Linked DNA regions of Homo sapiens: region 2 is linked to region 1. Evidence: fine-mapped expression QTL. Tissue or cell type: thyroid. Region 1 holds a variant in brackets; the other region holds the start of a gene. All regions are shown on one strand. Distances are from middle to middle.

The links. PIP is the estimated chance that this variant, and not a neighbour inherited with it, causes the effect.
Region 2: KCNJ5-AS1 starts here. The variant in region 1 is fine-mapped to the expression of KCNJ5-AS1 in thyroid (GTEx, PIP above 0.99).

What each region holds. Positions count from the first base shown.
Region 1 is chr11:128,859,988-128,868,088 of GRCh38, reverse strand. It overlaps KCNJ1 (potassium inwardly rectifying channel subfamily J member 1), which reads left to right and starts at 793. Exons shown (of 3, transcript NM_153766.3): 1 at 793-916. LOC107984409 (a long non-coding RNA gene) reads right to left here. Exons shown (of 3, transcript XR_001748442.2): 2 at 4,079-4,192; 3 at 910-1,339. RefSeq lists a silencer at 7,921-8,101. The variant C/A (reference allele first, on the strand shown) is at 5,023.
Region 2 is chr11:128,902,609-128,910,709 of GRCh38, reverse strand. It overlaps KCNJ5-AS1 (KCNJ5 antisense RNA 1), which reads left to right and starts at 4,479. Exons shown (of 4, transcript NR_045767.1): 1 at 4,479-4,561; 2 at 6,099-6,279; 3 at 7,199-7,343; 4 at 7,997-8,101. The region is part of intron 1 of KCNJ5 (potassium inwardly rectifying channel subfamily J member 5); the gene reads right to left. RefSeq lists a silencer at 5,545-5,614.

The sequences.
Region 1 (8,101 bases):
ATTATATTATATATTAGAATATAATACATAATGAAATAAGGAATATAATAGAATATTATTTCATAGAATAGAATAGAATATTATTTCCTTCTATAATAGAATAGAATATTTCATTATTTCATCCCATATTCATTATTTCATTCTATAATATTATAGAATAGAATAGAATATTATATAATGTAATAGAATATTATTTCATTATATATTAGAATATAATATATAATGAAATAAGGAATATAATAGAATATAATAGAAGTAAAGTAATTATTATAAGTAAACACAGTAGAAACAAAGTTCACAATAAATGTCATGTGTTTGAATCATCTCGAAACCATCCTCCCCCACCACCTCCCTGGTCCATGGAAAAAATGTCTCCCATGAAACTGGTCCCTGGTGCCAAAAAGGTTGGGGACTGCTGTTCTAGGGCCACTGAGTGATTCACAGGACAGGAGACATTTGTGAGGGGCTCCTTGGGGACCCCTACTTCCCTGCCCTGTAACATCCAGCCTCATGTGCGCACGTGTTCAACTTCATGCCTTTGACTTAGACACATCGACATGAGCATACCGGCCTTCTGGTTCCAAGCCAGGGTTCCATAAACAAATCCTTCTTAGTTAGCCTTGGTAGCTCAACACCTTTGGTATCTCACTCACTTAACTGCCACGCCTACTCTTGTTGGATCCGGTTATAAAGTAAACTATGTTCTTTGAGAACTGTTGCATACAGATGAGTTGGCAGCCGGTCTGAGCTGGCCCACAGACTCATAAAATCAACAGGGCCTCGGGTACCCTCACCTAGCATATCCAAACTCTTGCATCAAAGGTGCAGGGACTTGCTCACATCGAGAATCTGGTTGCTTTCTTGGAGACCAAGAAAATGAGTTTTTGTTTCTACATTTACTCCAGCAATCCATGAGGTAAGAGGAGAAACACCTCATTGTCTCTTTGTAGGAAAAAGAAGTTAATTCTTGTGAAAATTTAGACCTCTTTTCCCCGCCTCAAATCTAGGCAGACTTGTCTGTCCACTCCTGGGGGATAGATAGAAGCATGGTTTTAACTCACTCACTGGATGCTTTTGGTGTGCTGGTTACATGTGGATTATTAGCTGTGTGCTGCATCTTGCCTTCCCTGGGTCACTCCGCAGCCCTGGGGCTGGAGGGCAGTAAGAATCTTTGGTTGCATCATGCCTGATTCCAAAGTCTTCTTTTGGTGGCAGAGATGTATGTAGGGTTTTCATCTCTGGTGGCATCCTTTCAATTGTAGCAAGACCTTGCCTAGTAACACAACCTCTGCCAAGCCGTTTCCATCTTTAAGGTAGAGGATCAAGGTGCTAGTGGGGTCTATTATGGAAAACATATATCAGGAAAAGGCAAGAGTTAGCCAGACATTTTGATTACCTTCACCCAAATGTCTTTCTTTCATTTTCTGATGTAGGACTTTATAGGAATTTTGCACCATTCTGAATGGATACATTTGGATTTCTCAACATTTGTTCAGCTTCCTAATGACTGTTGTGACAATTGCTCTATACCAGTGAATGCCAACTGTTTATCTCTGCTCTGAACAGGTATGGAGCCCCTTCTCCCAATATCTGTATCTTACAGATTTGGTGCATAGACGCTTAAAAGGAGTTGGTCTTTCGCAACCAGCAATCTTTAGGAAAAATGATTGAATTTTTCTCCTTTTAGCTGGGCTTACAAAATGGAGCAAAACATAGTGATTGTGCTATGGACCTTTTATGGACAGGGACTTGGCAGAGCCACTCACTGGATGCTTTTGATCTGCTGGTTGTACCTGGATTATTAGTTGCGAGCTGCACGCTGCCTTCCCTGGGCCATTCCGTAGCCCTGGGGCTGGAGGGCAGTTAGAATCTTTGGTTGAATCTTCGGTTACATTGGAGGAGCTGCCCAGTCTTTGTGGGCTCCCTTCAGTCATGGGCTTGGCTTGTGTTGTCTTACTCTACACTGTTTAGTGTAAATGGATTCTCACTAAGTCAGCTTCAGCTTTTAAGAGCATGATGGGGTGGAGATATCTGGGAACGTATGGGCCATCAGAAAAGCATTTTTTTATACTCAAGTCATGAAGGTGGATTTCTTCTGTGTAAGGAGGTGCACCAAGTCAGTGTAGGTGCAAGACTGCCCTTGTAAAGAAGCAGAGTATGTGAATTCCTTGTGAGTGGGTCTTAATCTTTAATGCTTTAATGACTTTTGGTTTGCCTGATTTTTTTTAATATAAGAAGTTTGTAATTGCCAAGCATGCTTTTCTGTGAAGAGCTAAGTCTCAAAATTCCCCATTCACGTTCTTTTCCTTTCCTCAGTAATGTGTTTTTCTGTGCTAGGTTATGAGTCTACCCTGCACCTTGTCACAGCTCAGTGATTGTCCAGGGATTCAGCTGTGACTCACATGCTTTGCCTTTTACTTGCTCCAGGGTTTCCATGCATTGAAGGCTTCCTGGTGCCCTCTCAGTGGAATTGCTTCTGGCCTGGCAGTTTGATCCTGAGGGTGACCCAAATGTTTCTCCCCTTGGCTCCATAATTTAAGATGCCAGTGATGACTATTGTCTTTCTTCTCTTCATTCTTGTCTTTCTCATGACTATTATTATTATACATACAGGTTTTTTTCTTCATTTGCCTTTCAACAAGCTTGTAATTAGAACTCATTGTGTTTTGGATGCTAGGTCCTGGGAAACCACTGAATGGCTTGGGAAATGCTTTGCTCTAGAGGGCAGGTACTTGGGCTAGGGGCTATGTGCATGGAAACAGGCTCTCACACGCTAATGGGAGAGATACCTGATGAGTGGGGACTGTGACACAGAAATGTAGCTCATAGTATCATCGCTGCCTGCACAGAAAAGTACATCATACTTTTCCTACAGAGGACCTCATGGAAGCATGATCCTAAATGCGCTGGGTGGGCAGGAAGGGGCCTACTGGAGGCAGGGGGAAGAACATTCTAGAACAAGGAAATGGCATTTACAAAAATATGCAAGAATGAGAGAGAGCATGACTTACACAGGGAATACCAGGCTGGTGTGGCTGAGGGTGGGTGGCCAGGGGAGGGGTGAGGGAAGCTGCAGGGTGCCACGATGAAGGACCTAGTATGTGATGCTGAGGAACTTGGGCAGTGTCCGGAAGGTGGTGAGAACCGGGGTAAGATCTTATTTACATTGTGGAAGAGTTGCTCTGCCTGCACAGTGCAAGGTGGACTAGAGTAGGGTAAGACCACGGCCGGGTAATCAGGGAGGAGATTACCAAGAGGGAGAAGACACAAAGTCTGGTGGCCAATCAGCTGCAGAGAGTGATGGGGACAGGCGAGGATGAAGTGGAGCTCTGAAACAGGAGCCAGAGACTCCCAAAGTCCGCAAAAAGAGCACACTTTGAATGGCACAGACCCTTTTCCTTCCACTCACCCTCCCACATTCAAGACTGTGATGACCTAGGCTCAAGCCAAAAGTATACAGAAAAGGGCCTAGGCTTTCCCAATCTGCTCTTTCTCCTGAAATATATATGGTTCAGGAATAGTATTAGTACTGCTGTGAAATAGCAAAAAGTGGTTGGCTCGATTATGTGGTTCAGAAATCATCATGAACAAGCAGGGTGTGCAGAAATTGGAAAAAGAAAACAACAAAAACAAACATCTTCAAAAAATGCTGAAGAAAAAAATTAGTGTAGAGACATATAAAAGATAGACCCCTAGAAAAGTCAACAATAGGCCTGGTGCAGTGGCTTACACCTGTAATCCCAGCACTTTTGGTGGCTGAGGCTCATCTGAGGTCAAGATTTCAAGACCAGCCTGGCCAACATGGAAAAACCTCATCTGTCTAAAAATTTGAAAATTAGCCAGGCATGGTGGCACACACCTGTAGTCCCAGCTTCTCAGGGGGCTGAGGCATGAGAATTGCTTGAACCCGGGAGGCGGAGGTTGCAGTGAGCTGAGATCGTGCCACTGCACTCCTCAAGCCTGGGTGATAGGGTGAGACTTTGTCTCAAAAAAAAAAAAAAAAAAAAAAAAAAAGAGAGAAAAAGAAAAAAGAAAAAGAAAAGTCAGTAATAAACCTTAAGGTCAAACCTTAAGTTACCTTAAGGTCAAAGGTTGTTCCTTCCTCCACGCAGGACGATTCTAAGCCATCCTTGCAGAAGATTGTGAAGGATGTGCAAAGTGTCAGCCTTTCTTGCCATTGCCTCGTCAGAATCTGTGAGCAAACGGAAAAAAGAACGATGCTCTTACACATGAAACTCCTGGATTCTTTTTAGAAAAATAGCAGAAAGAAACCAAAAATAGTGCAGAGAACAGGTCGCTTCAAAACTATTGAGGATCCAAAGATGTTCTGCCCTAAGGAGTTGCTTCTCAAAAACTGTTATTAAGGTCCTTAGCTGTCAAATATAAAACCCAACCCAAAAGCATTCCATTTAAAACCAGAGCATTGAAACACTAATTTTGAACAATCATTGTAAAGCCTCATCAAATCCAGCTCACTCATTGCAGAAATATGCAACTCAAAGGCCCTAGGAAAAATGTAAATCTGAATTTTCCCAGCACTGTTTTGGATGAATAATTTCCTCTCTCAGAAGAAGCCTGTTGTTACTTTTCAAAATTGGTTCCCCAGTATGCAACAGAGTCCATCTCTGCATGTGTGTATCTGCCCTGTGCTGTGTTCTGCCATTACCATGCTTTGTAAACTTTGCATTCTGGTTAGATGCGTGTGACTCACTGATGCTTCTAAGGGAAGATTCTTTTTGAATAATCCTTGAAATACAAGCCAGATTTTTCCATTTATTTAGAATTTCCCAATGTCCCTGCCCCTCCCTCTGCTCCAGTTGCACACACACCAGTGTTTCTTGGCTGGGATTCAGGAATTGTATTTATTGGGGTCTATCAGTGTGTCACCATATCCCCAGGGAACAGATTTAAATATGCAACCCAACACAATTGAAAGCAACAGGTTAATACTGTCTTTGCAGAGTTAAAACAGCCCAAGTTCTCTCAGGTGACTACCCGTAGGGGAAGTCTCATGGTTCGTTG[C/A]CCTTGATTAAATTCTCAGGAGCTTTCTGGCTTTATCCAGATCTACCATTTGTCCTTGAAGAGCTCAGCAGAACTCAGCAACTGTGAATAACTGTTGTGGGTCTTTTCACAGGAGAAGACTCTGTGAAGTGTGTGGCCCCTTGGAGTCCGAGTCCAGTGATGAGATATTCAGAGAGATAAGGGTAATCCCGGTCTCATGCTGGAAAGTGCATGTGACCATTTTGGGGATCAGGGTATTTGGATGCTGTTAAGGGAAGTGTTGGACTGCTGATGAATTATGCACAGAGTATGGGGAGCTTGAATCGGGTTCAGAGATAAGCCACAGGCATGGGCTAAGGTCACCTTAGACCTCTGGGAAGCCCCCGCTGTGCTGGCCTTAGTGAAGTGTGATGACACAGTCCCTATGCTGCAGAAGCTCTGGTCCCCGTGAGGGGATGAGTAGGGATGGCAGGTACAAGAGTGGCTGCATGACACATCAGCGAACTGGCAGAGCATGAGCACGTTCTAACCTACCAACCAGGCTCCCCGACCCAGTCTGCTTCTAGGGCAGCCCCGGGGGGGATGGAGGGGGCGGTAGGACACAGGGCTGTTTCCTCTCCCAATACTCCATCCCCTCAGAGGGAGTGGAGAAGGGGAGTCAGGAGACCCCCAGAGCGCTCCCCAGGACCAGGTCTGAGAGTCCTTTCCAACATGGGTCTCCTCACTCCTAGTCCTGCTTGAATCCATTGTGCATAAGAATTCACACCCAGCCTGGGCAATGCTCACCACTGAAGAGACAGGATGAGGTCTGCTGGGGACGGAGGCTGCCAGAGAGTGGAGAAAACCCCGTGCCGCACTCGGATTTTCTTCCCCTTATTACTGATACACCTGCTCCTTTGGCTGGGTGTTTCCCAGCCTGTGGAGTTTACAGATTTGGATTTCTACAAAGTTGCCCCTTAAGTATCTTGTGGCAGTGGGGAAAGGGGTGGAGAGACTGGGAGGATGGCACTGCAGCAAGATGAGCGGTGCGACCCAGGCACCCAGCGCACAGCAGGCAAATCCCTTCCCACGCGGATGACCACGGCCACTGGGACCTGAAGCTGGGAATAGGCAGCCACCGGAGAAGCGCGGCCGAGAGCTGGGGGCTGAAACTGCTTTCTCATCTATGAAGGGGCTGGTTTTCTCATCCTCACTGAAGGCCAGAGGAAATTAGACTTCAACCTCACCCGTTAGGATGTGGGTTGGAGATCAGGAAGAAGCTTGGGTTTTAGGGGTGTGGAGAGGCAGGAGTCCATTTCAGCGGGAAATGGACACAAACTTCTACAGACACGGAGCCTGCATCTATCTTTCTGGGAGGGGTTCCGGTGGCCGCTTACCGACAGGCAGGGCACGGGGCTGGTGTTTTTGGAAATCTTATCACAAGGCCCTCACTCCTGGGCTTGCACCAGGGAGGCGAGCCCCAGTTATCCCGCTCTGCAGTGGCTCCCAGGAGCAGGGGTATGTTTCTGACGACAGTCACCTCTGGCTATTGCTCTGATTCTGCCTTTCTTCAGGTTGCCTGGGTCTATCCCATAAATGAGCCTGTGATCACTGGGTACAAGCTCCCTTGCAGCTTCCTTTCTGTCTGAGGTCCCAGGGATACCCGCTAGCCCTGCTGCTCACATCTTGCCTCCTCACTCGGCATGTTTCTCTTTCTGTTCTAAATGTCCCAGCTCATGCCCCTCCATGGTACCATCCCCATTGACCCCAGCCCCACTAGGGCCCCCAATCCTGGGTCTCAGCTGCCAGTGAATGCTGCAGCCCTGCTTCAGTTGCTCAGTCAGCACCCCACGCAGAAAAGCGCCTCGGGCGGAAGCTGGCGGCACCAGAGTTTCTGTCTTTGCCTGCGTAGCCATGTGGGTTAGGGAGCCCCAGGGACGCCAACAGCCAGACCACAGGCGGGCTAATTTCCAAATGCTGACACAGTGAATGCCACCCATATTTCACCAGTGACTGGAGAGCAGATGCTGGGCATTCGTGGGCCCTGCTTGTGCCTGGGGATGGAGAGAAGGCAGGACACTTGAGGCAGATGCCAGTGCTGCCTCTGAGCTGTTGATGCTCCCTGCCCTGGAGTTCACAAAAATAATCCTCTACATGGTGCATAGAGTGTTTTTGTGTTTTTTGAAGTATTACAGGCAGGCCCCGGCGACATGATCTTCGTCTCCCAGATAGGGAAATTCTGAAAATCAGGAAAGGGGCTGGGCGTGCCCCTGTCACATAGCTGGTAATTGGAGCTGGGTCTCTGGCCTTCAGGGCACTTTCCTCTGTGGTCACACCTGGGTTTCAGAGCCACCTGGCCTCCACTTTTCTGAGCAGCTTCCTTCAGCATTTTCTTGTTTCCTCTGTGCTTGCATCCCGCCTGCCCCTTGGGGTCACCCTGTTTCCAGGCTATTGCGTCTCCAGGCCCCTTGGTCCAGCTGATGTGGGTTACAAGGCCCACCCGTGAGGTGGCAGTGGGCTAATTTTCAATAATCCAGTTGGTGACTGTTCTTCAGAGAGAATCTTCTGGAATCTCTGACTTAGTGACGGCACAGAGACTTCCTGAGTTCCTTAAGTCACGTCTTCCTTCCCTTAAGTCACTTCTTAAAAAAATCAATTCATTTCTACAAGAACTCATGTATGCATTTCACACAGTGAAACCTGTGCAGTGTCACGCACTTATATCAGACGGTCATTGCCTCTCTTTTACATTGTCAGTATGGAATTCTTCACGGGAAACCTGCCACAGTGTCCTGCCGGCCTGTCTAGTCAACAGTTCTTCATGTCTCACTGAAGTCCCTCTTGCCATAAATCCAAGTCATGTTTCTATAGTGTCGCTCATCCATCCGGATTCTCCCAAGCACTGCATCATTTAATCTGAACGATGGCCCTGGGAAGTAGATAGCATCATTGTCATCTGACAGATGAGAAATCCGAGGCCTGGCTCCTGCCCGGTCTGGGGCCAGACAGGTGTCCTTCCGGGCGCCCTTCTGAAATCAATGCCGACCTCTCTTGCGCAGTGCCCTCGGCAGGCGCCAGGGGGCGCTGCTGCTGCTGGTAAGCGGGAGGCCCGGCGGAGGCG
Region 2 (8,101 bases), 43 kb before region 1:
ACACAGCCCGGCACATGGATGTATTCAAAAAGTACTTACTGAGTAATTGGATGGATAAATAAAAAAACAGGCTTCCAAAGAGGTTAAGTGACACCCAGGCCACCAAATATCAGGCAGAGCTGATTTTTGGATTCCTGCTCATCTGGCCCAAGCCTGTGCTGTTTCTTTCATTCCTTGCTGTCTCTATTTATCTTGAGGTCTTTTAGCAGCAGACAGAAAGGAAAAGGCAGCATGTATCTGATTTGTCAATTGGTCACCCCTACCGTCTGAGTGTGAAGTCTGCAGCCATCTGAGTGCTTATTAAAATGACAAATTGCTGTGTAGGCCCGCCATTAGAAAATTTGATTCCCTGTCCTCTAAGAAATGGAACTGGACAGGATGTTAATGGCCCCAAAGCTCTTCAAAGGGCGTAATGTGTTTGTGGGGGTGCCTACCACACTTCCAAGAGATACCCACACACCTGCAATACAGGTGTCTGATAGTCCCCTCAAAACCCATTTAACGAGCTTTAAGACTCTCATTCAGTTGGGAAAGACCTCTTTAATTAACAATAACAGACAACATTTCTGAGCACTCAGAAGCCAGGAACTGCACTAGGAAATTTTTATCCATTGGCTGATTTAATCCTCACAACATGGTTAGATAAATACCATTATTATCCCCCCATTTTTCAGAAGAGAAGAATGAAGCTCACTTAGCATGTGACCAAGTGAGGTTTTGGGTCTAGGTTTATCTGGCTGCAGCCCAAAGGCTGACCCACAGCACTCACCACACAACGGCCAGCAGACACTGATGCTCCGGGGCTCATGCTAAGGCTGATGACCTGCTCCCTTCAGAAAGTTCTATGAGCTTCTGGCCCTGGGAAACATCACCTTAGGGATACTATCTTTCAACCCTTCTTCCTCTTTATAAGTAAGTCTTCCTTGAATTCGCAGTTACCCTCCCTCCCGGGTATAGGGTCCCCCAGGAACCCCCACTTACTTATCTGTCCTGATCGAGAAACACAGAATGCCTAGACTGCTCTGTCACTTGGCCAGCTGCATGTCTTTTCCTGCAGGCCTGAGCCCTGGAAACATTCCCTGGCACTGAAACCCTGTTTAGGTTGTTACCTGAAATACTGAAAGATTAAACATGTTGCTAAACATGTAGGAATTAGCCCAACCTTGGGCCAAATAACTCCATAACCCAGAGCCCTTGCCGCAGACATACTTAAGCGGAGCACCTCTTTTCTTGCTGTCTGTCATGAGGACCAGTGCAGCGCTCTACATGTAAGTTCCCCTAATAAGTGCTTTGGAACTTGGTGATTTCTTCTTTGGAATCTCAACTGACCCCATTTGGGGATGGTTTGGGCAGTCCCTTGCAGGAATTCCCCTGCCACCATTCTGAGGGTGACTCCAGCTGCAGGTTCCACCAGGCAGAACACCGGGAAGCTGTGTCCCCAGTAGAACAACCTGGAAAAAGGCCTGTCAACCACTGAGCTGACTGCCTAATGGCAAACCAAGGTAGATCCCAGCTGTCCTGGGGAGTCAGATGACCCTGGCAGGCCTTTTCCTGTGCTGCCTGGGTGATTATAGCAATTTCAAGATAACCTTTAAAACATCATATCAAAAGGTCATCTGAAGGGCTTTGTCCCAGATGTCCATTGGCCATTTCCCATTCTGCATAGGGCCACCTGCTTCCTGCTCCTTCATGTGGCAGTTAACAAGGATAAATGAGACAAGGAGGAAAATGCTTGGGGCTATCTTTGCAGAATCCCAAGCAGGAATTTGCTCTGCCTTAAGTGGGAGACTTCATCCTGAAAACTCAATCACAGATGCTCAGAGATGATGGAAAATGCTGCTGTCCCGAGGCCCCGTGTATTCTGGACACCCCAGCTGTTGGAACCAAGATAGGCTTCCAATGGGGGTGCCGCTGCGGACTCCCTGAGCCACTGAGGTTGGGCAGGGCAGGCACAGTGCCACAAGAATGAGTCATTGGCCGGGGCACATGGGAGCTCACATCCTCCTGTACTCAGCTCTTTGGGGAAACAGCTTGCTGCTGATTTTCTGCACTGTTTCCTTCTTTATTTTTAAACATACTTGCATACATTCTTGTAGGCGAAGGCTTTGTGCCGTACTAGAAACGGGAAAATGTTTTCTAGGAGACTTCAGCCCAGATAGGAAAACTTTTTGCGTCTGGCAGATAGGAAAGGGTGGTTTACTTTTGATTTGATATTGGGACGCATTCCTGTGCGCTGGAATCATCCGCAGAAGTCATCCCTTGCTCAACCCAGGGTAACATCTGGATTCTGACTCAGTGTCCAACAAACCAGCTTTGTGGTCCAAATACAAACAAACTTAACTTTCTTTGCCTCAGTTTACTCTGCTATAAATCCCAGATAATATCCTCTGCTCCTCCAGCCCTGGGAGCCAATTGTAGGGATTCATGGAAAGAATACATGATACAAACATAAGTATAAATAAAATAAACATACGTATTCATAATCTCTCCTCAAATTGAAATTTAATGCAATATCCCATTAACCCCATTTTAAAGATGAAGAAAGAGAGGTAGAGATTATCTAAGACAAATAGCTAAAGGCCCAGTGGGCAATTTGCAGGGCAAGCATTGAGCTGACCAGCATGCAGCCTCTACTGTTTAGATTTCTTTTAAGGGTAAGTAAAATCCCCATCCTTGAAACCCTGGCTTCCAGTGTTGTGTGCCTATCAAGTCAAAAGGATTTTCAGGGACAATGGAGATGAAATTCTTTAATCAGGTTTTCGAGATCCGTTCTATTAATTATGCACTCATTAAGCACACATTAATTGAGGAACTACTATAGCCAAACCCCTGTGCTAGGAGCTGGACATAAAGCAGTGAAGAAGATAAACGCAGAGCCAGCCCTCCCATAGTTGATATTCTAGCATTTCCTCTTTGAAGCTAGGGTTTTTGCAGAACTGTCTGTAGAGGACAGACAGGGAGGAATGCTGTGGCTGGCCTAGGTAAGCTGAGCATCCTAGCTACTCTCTGCAGGACGCAGGGAAAGGCACTGACTTGAGCAAATCCTATTAAGCCTCATCAAGCCTGATACTTCTCTTCTTCCATCCTCTCCTGTGTCTGTGAATGGGAAGCTGTGTTGAGACATGATGAAAGCTTTTGGAAAAGACAGAGCTTCAAGTCCAGCAAAGTGGTTTAATCCCTTTGATAGGAAAACACAAGTGGAGAAAGACTCAAAAGAGGCAAAATCAAAGGAAGTTGTATTTCAGATGATGCGTTAGTGAATGTGACATCCATTTAGATGGACCTCTGAATGAAGAATGTCAAACATCACGCACCCACAGGGAGGAAAACTTGGTGTCATGGCGTGGTCTAGAATGTCAGGAGTCAGGGCCCTAACAACTTGGTAAGAGCCTTGCTTGGGGGTCAGCAGGGCTTCCTGGAGAGACCACTGGCTTGGGAGTCTTTTCACAGACTCAGTCTCCCTATCTGTGATCACAAGCATCTTTATCAATTTCCTACTTTCTAAGATATGCTGGATCAAAATGTACCACTCTCTGAGCTTTGAAACACGGGATGAAGTTGGAGGAAGAGGAATGGAGGAGGGCGTGCTTATGTCTCATATGGAGATATTTGTATACTCTTCTGTGGGAATATATATGACTGTACTCATAGGAAAATGCTCCAAACTGGTTGGTGAACAGGCTGCCCCAGTCCCCTCAAGGCCCTTTAGGGTTAGCAGGAAGCATTCGAGGTGTTACACTTGAATGTAACACCAGAATACATGCTGGGGACAGAGAAGGCACTTGTAAGTAGGCAGAATTCCAACACACCCTCGTGATTCCTGCCCCCTGGTATACACCCCCTGAGGAACCCCAGGAAATCCTCACTCCCATGACTGGGGCATGTCATATGGCAGAGCTGAACTGAAGAAAGAAAGTTCATCTGGGGTGAGCTTGACCCAATCACAAGCCCTTTGAAGGGATTGGGCTTTTCCCGAAGTAAGAGATTCAAATTATTAGAGGAATTAGACAGAGGGGGCTTCTCCTTTGCTGGTTTTAAAGATGGAGGGGGCCACACGGCAAGGAATGTGGGTGACCTCTGGGAGCTGAGAGCAGCCCCCAGATGATAGCCAGCAAAAAAGTGAGGACCTCAGTCCTACAACCACAAAGACCTGAATTCTGCCAGAACCACAGGAGCTTGAAGGGGGCCCTGAGTTCCACATGAGAATGCTGGCCTCGCTGACACCCTGGTTTTGGCCTTGTGGGAACAGAGCAGAGGACACAGTCGCATCAAGCCTGGACTTCTGACCTACAGAACTGTGAGCTGATAAGTGGGTGCTGTTTCCAGCCACTATGTCTGTGGTCATCTGTTATGGCAGAAATAGAAAATCCAGTACAGAAAGGGAAGTCGGATCATAAACAGTTAGGAAGGCTGACTCTGGCATCAGATGACCTAGGTTCCTATTTTGCCTGGAGCTGAGGCACATTTGGAAAAGTTACTTCTCTAAGCTTCCGTTGCTTTATTTGCAAAATGGGGATAACAGTACTCACCAAAAAGAGCTGCTGCGAAGATGAAATGAAAGGTGTGTGTACAGTGCCTGGTTTACAGGAGCCCTCCTGAGAGGTAGCTCTTAGGATTTTCCACCAGGGGGCAGGGCTGGGAAAGGGGCTGGAGGGGTGGGGGTGAGGGGCAGGAGTGCTTCAAACGCCTTGAGGATAAGGAAGGAGAATCAGCAAGTCCCGAGTTCCTACGGTGTGTCAGCATCGTGCTCCCACTCCCGGGAGAGAGGCATTATCTTCAGTTTACAAAAGGGGAAAACAGGTGAGAGTTTAAAAACCTCGCCCGGAATCGCACGGCTAGTGCTGCAGGCTCCCCGGATTCCGCAGCAGCTGCTCTAGATGAGGGCATGCCTAGAGGCTCTGCTCCGCTGCAGCGTCTACGAGACCGGGAACCCGTGCCCCTTTCCTCCCCCCGCCCCGCCCCCCCAGAAGCCACGCCTGAGGAATTTTCTAAGACCTTTCCCTTTCGTCCCTCCCACGCCTAAGGTCCAGGTCCCAGGGCTTTCCCTTGCACCTTCATCCCTGGCCCTGCAGAGGCCTGCTTCTCGCTTCCGGGGTCGCCAGAGCGCCCCTCCCGCCACCCCGCCATCTCTTGGCCGGATCGTGCGAGAGAAGGGGAGGAGGTTGGGACGGGGGAGGGTGGCTGCGACAGGGGAGGGGAGCCTGGGAGAGGTGGGGAGGGAGGCTGGGACGGGGGAGCCCCAGCGCGGCAGGAACCGGGAGCCCTGAGCGCCACAACGTCTAGCGTGGCCTCGGAGGGTGACACAGGGGAGACCCCTCACCCCGCAGGGGACGAAGCCCCCAGTGCGGCTGGATAAGGCGGTGCTCGACGCCTGGGTGTGGCCCCCTGGCCAGCTGCAGCTCTGCGGCTGCGGAGGAGGCGGGGCTGGGGGATGCGGGGTGGGAGGGTGAGAGCCAGGAGGGGCCTGCGGAGGGGAGACAGAGGCCCTGTCCCCAGGGAACGGGCGTGGGGAGGCCGTTGGCAGTGCCGGGGACTCCCCGCCAGCGGGTCTCTCTTCCTGGAGGAAGGGCGGGCCAGCGGCCCCAGCCACCCAGAGACTGTGCCCAAGCCACACCGGTGGACAGGATCCTCCCAGGGGCCAGTCCTGGTTTCCCAGCTTTTCACAATTACCAACCTTAAAACAAAACAAAATTATCCTCTAGTGTACTCGGAGGTTTAATGGCACAGAGCCCGGTGGTAATAAATCTTTAAAAACCCGTCAGGTATTTCATTTAAAAACCGCACCATTTTGCAGCTATTTGTTCTATCAACTTAGGTCTGTGTCTATTTTTGAATTTCTGAACGTTTTACGGGTTTGCTTTTTGAGCCTGTTTGTTTCATAGCACATGATGGAGTAGGTGTGAAATCCCAGTGGAAGCTGACACAGGGCTTCACTCACTCAGTCAATTAGTCAGCGAACCCCCACTCAACACCCACTGGGTGTTTGAATTATGTTGAGCTCTGGGGATAGAAGGAGGTCGACTCACACTTCACTGGCATTCGTTCCTGTGCTTTCCCTTCCTGGGGATCTGGCTAAAATGCGGGTTCTGATTCTGTAGGTCTGGGGTTTCCAGAGTCCGCGGTTTTGCTAAGAAGCCGCAGTGATGTTGACGCGGCTGGTCCTCAGTGCACACCTGAGTAGCACGACCTCTCCGCCCTGGACGCACGCTGCCATCAGCTGGGAGCTGGACAACGTGCTGATGCCTAGTCCCAGAATCTGGCCCCAGGTGACTCCAACAGGTAATGAGATTGACGACCCTTGATGCGTTCTCTGTCCGCAAGGAGTTCCTGGTCTGGTGGGGAGTACACAGGCAAAAAAAATCAGTGCAGTAGAGAGTGAGAGAGAGGCCAGGGTGCAGTCCTGAATTTGGCTTGTCTGGGGTGGGCGAGGAAGAGTCAGGAAGGCCCTGGTGAGGAAGGCGTCCAGTGAGCAGGGTGAGGTGGCAGAGCCTTGTGGGCCTGAGAACAGGGGAGCAAACAGTAATAATAGCTCCAGCATGGAATCCCTGTTCTGTGCCATCTTTGTGCTGAGTGTTTTTCATGCATTGTATCATTTAATCCTGAAACAGATCTATTAAGTCCGTTTTAGTCGCCTCATTTTACAGGTCACAAAAGCAGAGTGATGTGGTAGCTTGCTTCAGGCCACACAGTTACTAAGCAGCGGGCTAGGTTTTGTCTGATTCCAAAGGCTCTAAGTGCAGCCACCGCTGCCTGGGAGGTTGGTTCCTCCTGAGCCCTCTGGGTGTGATGGGGTTGTTCTGAGTCCCGGGGGGAGCACCAGGGAAGGAACTCATGATTTCCTGCCATGTGGTCCGCTGTGCACAAGCTGCCCGGCAGCTCGGGTCACTTCCCGCCAGCCAGGGCTGTGTTCTCCCTCTCCCTCCTGCTCCCCTCCAGCATGCTCCCTACTCATCTAACAGCTGCTCCTCGGTGTTTCTAAGCACAATACTTGCCCCCAGAGGTCCCTGATTGCTCCCAGGAAATAAGATGTCCATGCATCCCAGGTAACACCTGTCATTCTGGCATCATCACCAAGAGTGCCCCGTCACTCTCTGAAGGTCTGCTTGGACAACGGCCCCCGCAGTAGAAACAAGACCACTAACTAGCAGCCACTGATTTCATTCTTAACACCCCTTCACTGGATTCTCCTTCATCTAAGGCAGGTCTGCCTCTGTCAGGAGTGAGGGTAACACCTCCTCACTCTGGAATTTCTCAGCTGGGCAGGATGTGCATGCCATAGTAACCAGAACCTGTGAGTCTGTGCTGAGCTCTGCCGTCTACACCCACGGCTGTGGCTGTGTGAGGTGAGTGCAGCTGCCGGATCGCGTTCTTCCAACACAGACACACTCTACATCCTTCTTGGTCACGTGCAATTAGTAGGCTTTCTCCTATTTTTATTTAAATGGGATGTCTTAGAGCTTCATTTTCATATTTTGATGTAGAGAAACATTTAAAATGTTGCATTCTCTTTATTTTAGGAAAAGCACATATACAAACCCATGATAAATGCAACCAAAACTTGCCCTGGGTTTGGGGGACATGGTAGGGGGTGGTGGGGACTGTGGTGAGCTGTACACACACGCAGTTCTAAAGCGGCAGCTGCTACTCGGCTCTAGTTCATTATTGCCTTGCCATGCCGTGGAGCCAGTACTGCAAGATCCTCCCTTTGCTTTTTCCAGAAAAGCCAGAAATTAAACTTTTGAAGATGAAATTTTTTTTCCATGTTGACCACTAATTCAACAATTTTTGAAAAAGTGAGCAAGCCATAGAGAATCTATGTGTGAGTCAGATTCAGTCTGTCAGCTGCCGGTTCGTATTTCTGGGCTAGGGAGTCGGAGAGAGGCCTTTTCTGCCCATGGACATGTTGGGCTGCGTTGTGAGTTAGGCTGAGAGTGCTGTTAAGAGTTGTGGTAGTGCCACTGAATTCCTCTCACAGCCTCCCTGTTTGCACCAACAGGTCTGCCACAAACATTACCTGTCAGTCCTCAGGACAACAAAGGCAGGCGGCCCGGCAGGAAGAGGAGAACTCAATCTGCAAGGCCCATGATAGTAGAGAGGGCCG